Homo sapiens: one gene and its partner. The protein of the gene in region 1 interacts with the protein of each later gene in a pairwise test. Each region holds a gene or a part of one and is shown on either strand. Other genes may lie near its edges.

The links.
Region 2: the proteins of LUC7L3 (region 1) and ITSN2 interact in a two-hybrid assay, tested with the Homo sapiens proteins (one large-scale study listed by BioGRID).

What each region holds. Positions count from the first base shown.
Region 1 is NC_000017.11:50,726,103-50,729,924, forward strand, and holds part of LUC7L3 (luc7-like protein 3), read left to right. Parts: intron 1-3,822. UniProt on the Homo sapiens protein: Binds cAMP regulatory element DNA sequence. May play a role in RNA splicing.
Region 2 is NC_000002.12:24,354,024-24,357,845, reverse strand, and holds part of ITSN2 (intersectin-2), read left to right. Parts: intron 1-3,822.

The DNA of each region.
Region 1 (3,822 bases):
AATTATCCCTTGGTTCTTGTGTATTTTCATCATTGTTTATTGCAATACCGTATAAACTTGTTGTTTTGCTTTTTGTTGTTGTTGTTTTTGAGACAGTCTTGCTCTGTCGCCCAGGCTGGAGTGCAGTGGTGCCATCTCGGCTCACTGCAACCTCTGCTTCCCAGGTTCAAGCAGTTCTCATACCTCAGCCTCCCAGGTAGCTGGGATTACAGCCGTGTACCACCATGTCTGGCTAAGTTTTGTATTTTTAGTAGAGATGGGGTTTTGTCATGTTGGCCAGGCTGGGCTCGAACTCCTGGCCTTAAGTGATCCGCCCACCTTGGCCTCCCAAAGTGCTGGGATTAGAGGTGTAAGCCACAGCGCCTGGCCTATGTACAATACCATGACCTTTGAATAACGCCCTGAGACCCATACGAAGTGCAGCTAGTGACATTGGAAGTGCTCCGAAGAAGCAGAAAAGTCATGACAGTACAAGAAGTTAAATTGCTTGATATGTACGATAGACTGAGATCTGCACCTGGGGTTGCTGGCATTTGAGACAATTCATCTTTTGTATACAGATGACCTAAACTTAGGGTATTGATAAATACAGCACTGTAAATGTGTTTTCACATTTTTTTCTCTAGCTTACTTATAGTTATTTTTTTCCCTAAACATTCTACAGTGCACATCTCTAGCTTACTTTATTGTAAGAATACAGTATATAGCCAGGCACGGTGGCTTACGTCTTTAATCCCAGCACTTTGGGAGGCCGAGGTGGGCGGTCACTTGAGGTCAGGAGTTGGAGACCAGCCTGGCTAACATGGTGAAACCCTGTCTCTACTAAAAATACAAAAATTAGCCAGGCGTTGTGGCCGGTGCTTGTAATCCCAGCTACTCAGGAGGCTGAGGCAGGAGAATTTCTTGAACCCGGGAGGCGGAGGTTGCAGTGAGCCGAGATCATGCCACCGCACTCCAGCCTGGCTGACAGAGCGAGACTTTGTCTCAAAAAAAAAAGAATACAGTATATAATACAAATAATATACAAAATACGTGTTAACCAACTGTTAGTGTTATTGTAAGGCTTCCAGTCAGTGGTAGGCTTTTGATAGTTAGGTTTTAGGGGAGTTAGGGTCAGTAACTCTCTTAGTTGTTATAAAGGAATACCTGAGGTTGGATAATTATAAAGAAAAGAGGTTTATTTAGTTCAGTTCCCCAGACTGTACAAGAAGCATTGTAGCTGGTACCTATCTGGTGAGGGTCCCAGACTGCTTCCACTCATGGCAGAAGGGGAGCTAGCATGCGCAAAGATCACATGGCTAGAGTGCCAGGCTCTGTTCAACAACCAATTTTCCAGTCAACTAAGAATGGGAATTCACTCCCACAAGAATGTTTTTTTTGGGACCAAAGAAACCACATCCAAACCATAGCAGTGCCCCAGCCCCCCGAGTTCAAAGGTCAGCTGTATAGTGTACACAGGAAAGGAGTGCATAACCCAGATTGGGATGGATACTCAGGAAAGGCCTGTCAGACAAAGTGGTCTTTAAATACATTTACCTAAAGGATTGGCAGGAATTAGCCTGAGGGAGAGGAGAGAGAAGACACCTTACCAGCCTGAAGGAAGAGCTGGAGAAAAATCGGTGAATTTGGCAAATTTTAAATAGTATTGTAGTGTGTATGTTTTTGTTGGGTGGGGTAGTGTAGATAGGTAGGCAAGAACTTGGTTTTAAATAGTTTTTATAGGCCGGGCGTGGTGGCTCACGCCAGTAATCCCAATACTTTGGAAGGCAGAGATGGTGGATCACGAGGTCAGGAGATCGAGACCATCCTGGCTAACATGGTGAAACCCCATCTCTACTAAAAATACAAAAAAAAAAAAAAATTAGCTGGGCGTGGTGTGGTGGCAGGCGCCTGTAGCCCCAGCTACTCGAGAGGCTGAGACGGGAGAATGGCGTGAACCCGGGAGGCGGAGCTTGCAGTGAGCCGAGATCGCGCCACTGCACTCCAGCATGGGCGACAGAGCGAGATCTGTCTCAAAAAAAAAAAAAAAAAAGTTTTTATAAGCCTTGTTGAAAGTTTAGATTTTATTACATTGGGAAATAACTGAAGGCTTCTAAGCAGAAGAGAGATGTTTACTAACTGGCTGCTGTGGAAGATTGATTGAAATTTTACTAGAAGTTTGTGTAGGCAATAAATAGTGAATCATACCTGCAAAGGTATACGTAATAAAATTAAAGGCATGGAAATGAATGTGTGGTCGTGGTATAACTGAAACATAAAGCTATATGTTATCAGGGACATAATTTTTGTTATAAATTCTTTTATTAAAAATTATTTCTTTGGGGGTTTATCTTTAACACAGTGAATTGAACTCTTAGGTAAAAAAAAATATTTATAGACTGTCATAATCAGAATTAAACTATTAATATTGAGGCAGAAGTGACAAAAGACTACAGCGTGTAGGGTTGGTTTTTGTTTTTGTTTTTTTGGAGACAGAGTCTTGATCTGTTGTCTAGGCCGGAGTGCAGTGGCGCGATCTCAGCTCACTGCAAACCTCCGCTTCCCAGGTTCAAGCGATGCTCGTGCCTCAGTCTCCCGAGTAGCTGGAACTACAGGCGTGTGCCTCCATGCTTGGCTAATTTTTGTATTTTTAGTAGAGACGGCGTTTCGCCATTTTGGCCAGGCAGGTCTCAAACTCCTGGCTTCAAGTGATCTGCCTGCCTCGGCCTCCCAAAGTGCTAGGATTGCAGGTGTGAGCCACTGCAGCTGGCTTGTGTTCCTTTTTTTTAACCAATAAAATTTCCAGGTATTCCTGGATTTTAAATTAATATTTGTATGTGTATGGCATTTGAGGTATTCCAGTAATATGTCCTGTTTCAGAATACAGTAAGTCTGCATTTAACGTCGTTAATGGGTTCTTGGAAACTATGACTTCAGTTGAAATGACATATAACAAAAGTTTTACCATAGACTAGTTAATATAAAGAAGAGTTAGGTTTCTGTGGCACATTCTGGTTACAGAAACATAACTAAAAAGACCCAAAACATTTCTGATATCAAACATTGAGATAAATTTGAGGTATACATACATTTAAGAAAGATGAATAAAAGCGAGGTAATTACCCAGTTTTTGGTGAATCAGTGAGTGATGGCAATTTTAGTGGTGGTGAGTTAAGTCAAGGAATAAATGTTTACAACTTGAACATTGTCAGAAGCACCTCCTACCTCCATTCAGTTCCAACACAATAATAAAGATGGTAAACTCACCACTTTTGGACTATGCTGTTTATTTTCATGCATTTGTATGATTATCATATGCTTTACAGACTTTTATTTTACAATAATTTCATTGTAATATACAATATATTCATTCCTTTCCAGCCTCCTTATTCCAGTTCAGGGTGGTGGGTGGCCAGAGCTGATCCCGGCTGCCCAGGATGCAAGGCAGGAACTAACCCTGGACAAGATCCCCTCCCATCACAGGGCATACTCACACACCCACACTCACCCAGACTGGGACTTAGGCATGCCAGTTCACCTACCGTGCACAGCTTTGGGATGTGGAAGGAAACCAGAGTACTGGGAGAAAACCCATACAGACATGGGGAGAACTTGCAGACTCCTACACAGTTAGCCCCAGCTGGGAATAATTTTTTTTCCCCTCATCACATTATTCAAGGACTTACTGTATATAGTAATTAGGATTGGCTATTTAGATTTTTAAAATTTAAGTCCCTGTCAGTTTTACTGTTTCCAACATGAGTTGTGTTGCCAGTGTTTAGATAATCAGAAGTATATATTGAATATAAATACATTATATATATATATATATATATATATATA
Region 2 (3,822 bases), on another chromosome or scaffold:
AAGTAGCATTTTTACATATTGTATTTACTTGTAAAACATTTATATTAACAAGTTCCAGAAATGATTCAGAATAAACGAGTTACATTACCAAAAATGTGATATATTTATTACCATCTAACGGTGCATTTTCTTTTTCTTTTTTTGGATTCAAGTTTTTTTAGTACCTTTTTTATTTATGGAAAAAATTTGTGAAAAAACTGTTTTTGAAGAAAGGCAGACTTTCTTGTGTGCCGATTTTTTTTTATTTCTTACAAAAAAAACAGGATATATGTGCAGAACGTACAGGTTTGTTACATAGGTATACGTGCACCGTGGTGGTTTGCTGCACCTATTCACCCGTCCTCTAAGTCCCCTTCCCTCATTGCCCCCCCACAACAGGTCCTGGTGTGTGTTGTTCCCCTCTGTGTCCATGTGTTCTCAATGTTCAACTCCCACTTATGAGTGAGAACATAGGGTGTTTGATTTTCTGTTCCTGTGTTAGTTTGCTGAGGATGATGGCTTCCAGTTTCGTCCATGTCCCTGCAAAGGACATGATCTCATTCCTTTTTATGGCTGCATAGTATTCCATGGTGTATGTATATCACATTTTCTTTATCCAGTCTATCATTGACGGGCATTTGGGTTGGTTTGGTGTCTTTGCTATTGTAAATAGTGCTGTAGTAAACATACGTGTGCATGTGTCTTTAGAGTAGAATGATTTCTATTCCTTTGGGTATATACCCATTAATGAGATTGCTGGGTCAAATGATATTTCTGGTTCTAGATCCTTGAGGAATTGCCATACTATCTTCCACTATGGTTGAACCAATTTACATTCCCAGCAACAGTGTAAAAGCGTTCCATTTCGCCACAGACTTGCCAGCATCTATTGTTTTCCTGACTTTTTAATAATCACCATTCTGACTGGCATGAAATGGTATCTCATTGTGTTTTTTTTTTTTTGAGACGGAGTCTCACTCTTGTTGCCCAGTCTGGAGTGCAATGGCGCGATCCCAACTCACTGCAACCTCCGCCTCCTGGGTTCAAGTGATTCTTCTGCCTCAGCCTCCTGAGTAGCTGGGATTACAGACGCCTGCCACCACGCCCTGCCAATTTTTGTCTTTTTAGTAGAGACATGTTGGCCAGGCTGGTCTAGAACTCCCAACCTCAGATGAGCCACCCGCCTTGGCCTCCCAAAGTGCTGGGATTACAGGCTTGAGCCACTGCACCCGGCCATCATTGTGGTTTTGATTTGCAGTTCTCTGATGATCAGTGATGTTGAGCCTTTTTTCATGTTTGTTGGCCTCAAAAATGTCTTCTTTTGAGAAGTGTCTATTCATATCCTTTGCCCACTTTTTGGTGGGGTTTTTTTTTTCTTGTAGATATGTTTAAGTTCCTTGTAAATTCTGGATATTAGACCTTTGTCAGATGGATAGATTGCAAAAATTTTCTCCCGTTCTGTGGGTTGCCTGTTCACTCTGATGATAGTTTCTTTTTTTCTTTCTTTTTTTTTTTTTTTTTGAGACAGGGTCTTGCTCTGTCTCCCAGGCTGGAGTGCCGTGGTGCCATCTTGGCTCACCACAATCTCTGCCTACCAGGTTCACCTCCCAAGTAGCTGGGATTATAGGCATGTGCCACCACGTCCAGCTATTTTTTTTTTTTTTGAGATGGAGTCTCGCTCTTGTCCCCCAGGCTGGAGTGCAATGGTGCGATCTTGGCTCACTGCAACCTCAGCCTCCGGGGTTCAAGTGTGATTCTCCTGCCTCAGCCTCCTGAGTAGCTGGGATTACAGGCGCCTGCCACCATGCCCAGCTAATTTTTGTATTTTTAGTAGAGATGGGGTTTCACCATGTCCAGGCTGGTCTCAAATTCCTGACCTCAGGTGATCCACCCGCCTCGGCCTCCCAAAGTGCTGGGATTACAGATGTGAGCCACTATGCCTGGCCTTTTTGTAATTTTTTAAAAATAGAGACAGGGTTTCACCATGCAGGCCAGGCTGGTCTGGAATTCCTGACCTCAGGTGATCCTCCCACCTCGGCCTCCTATAGTGCTGGGATTATAGGCATGAGCCACTGCACCCAGCCTGATGATAGTTTCTTTTGCTGTGCAGAAGCTCTTTAGTTTAATTAGATCCTATTTGTCAATTTTGGCTTTTGTTGCAATTGCTTTTGGCATTTTTGTCATGAAGTCTTTGCCCATGCCTATGTCCTGAATGGTATTGCCTAGGTTTTCTTCTAGGGTTTTATGGTTTTGGATTTTATATTTAAGTCTTTAATTCATCTCAAGTTAATTTTTGTATAAGGTGTAAGGAAGTGGTCCAGTTTCAGTTTTCTGCATATGGCTAGCCAATTTTCCCAGCACCATTTACAGAATAGGAGATCCTTTCCCCATTGCTTGTTTTTGTCTTGTTTGTTGAAGATCAGATGGTTGTAGATGTGTGGTGTTATTTCTGAGGTCTCTGTTCTGCTCCATTGGCTTATATGTCTGTTTTGGTACCAGTGCCATGCTGTTTTGGTTACTGTGTGCTGATTTTAAAGACAGGATTCCAAGTGTGAAGTAGAAAAATAAGAATGTTTATAATTAATTCTGTAAGTGGATAGATCTAAAGTTGAAGGTACATCAGAAATACTGTATTTTTTACTTGAGTTCATTTTTTGGATTTTGTAACATCCTACAGCTGTGGAGCGCAGAAACTAATGTTAGAGTTCTCTTGGGTAAAGTGTGAATATAGGTATTCTTGAGGAGGAGGAACTGAACTGGTCTTAAAGGATATGAGAGCAAAGAGGAAGTGGGAGAGGAAGGGAGGAAACTGAACAGAATTAGGACAGTTAATAGATCAAGAAATATGTATTTTCACAGCTCCAAGAGGGCAGCATATTTCATTTGCAGAATGTATAGTATTGTTTCAAAAGGTTCACTTAAAATATAATTTCATAGATACATCAGGACATTAAATGATTTATTTACTTGTGGAGCTATTCAGCAGTGGATTATGGCAGACATTTAGTGGATTAGGGGACTATTACCAGACGGTAAACATTTGTTTTATTTAACTGTTTCATATTTTTAAGATCATTTTCTTCACGAATGCGTATTCATTTTAGATAAAGTATATGTGATTTTAATAAAAATTTCATTTATTTTCATCATAACCATAGAGGATAAGAGTACAGCCTCTGAAGTTAGACCTGCTTCCAGCTCTGACACCAAATAACTGTATAATCTTGGGCAAGTTACTTTAATTCTCTTCAGCTTCTGTTTCCTTATGTGTGAAATGGGGAAATATTAGCTAGTTCCTAGTGTTGTTATATGTAATATAAAGTGCTTAGCACAGTGACTTCTGCTTAGTGTAAGTGCCTAATGTTACCTGTTGTTTTAACTTGGTTCAGTGAGAAATTTCAAACTAACCTAACATAGTTCTTATTTTGGTCTTTGTTTTACACCGTGACTGGAAAGGAAATTAGCCTTTTGCCCTTAATTTTTAATCTTACCATCGGAATAATCTATATAAGAAGGCTGAAAAGTAGGGTAGTACAGACCCACAATCCCACTGGGCTCAATTTCCAAATTTGTTTTTAACATTCTCAAGGGGCCTATGAAAATGTTTAGTGAAGCCTTCTTTAAAGTGTGGTTTATCTTGGGCCAGCCCCACAGTTGGTGATGGCCTTGGGCCTGAGACCCTTCCAGGATGGGCCTGGTGATGGTATCAGTGATAATGAGGTAACCATGATAACATGTAACAACTTGTAGTGTAGGGCTTGGCACTTAGTAAATATTGATGATTGATGGCTGCTGTTTTAATTTTCATAATAAATATGCACATTTATATCAAAATGTAAGTTT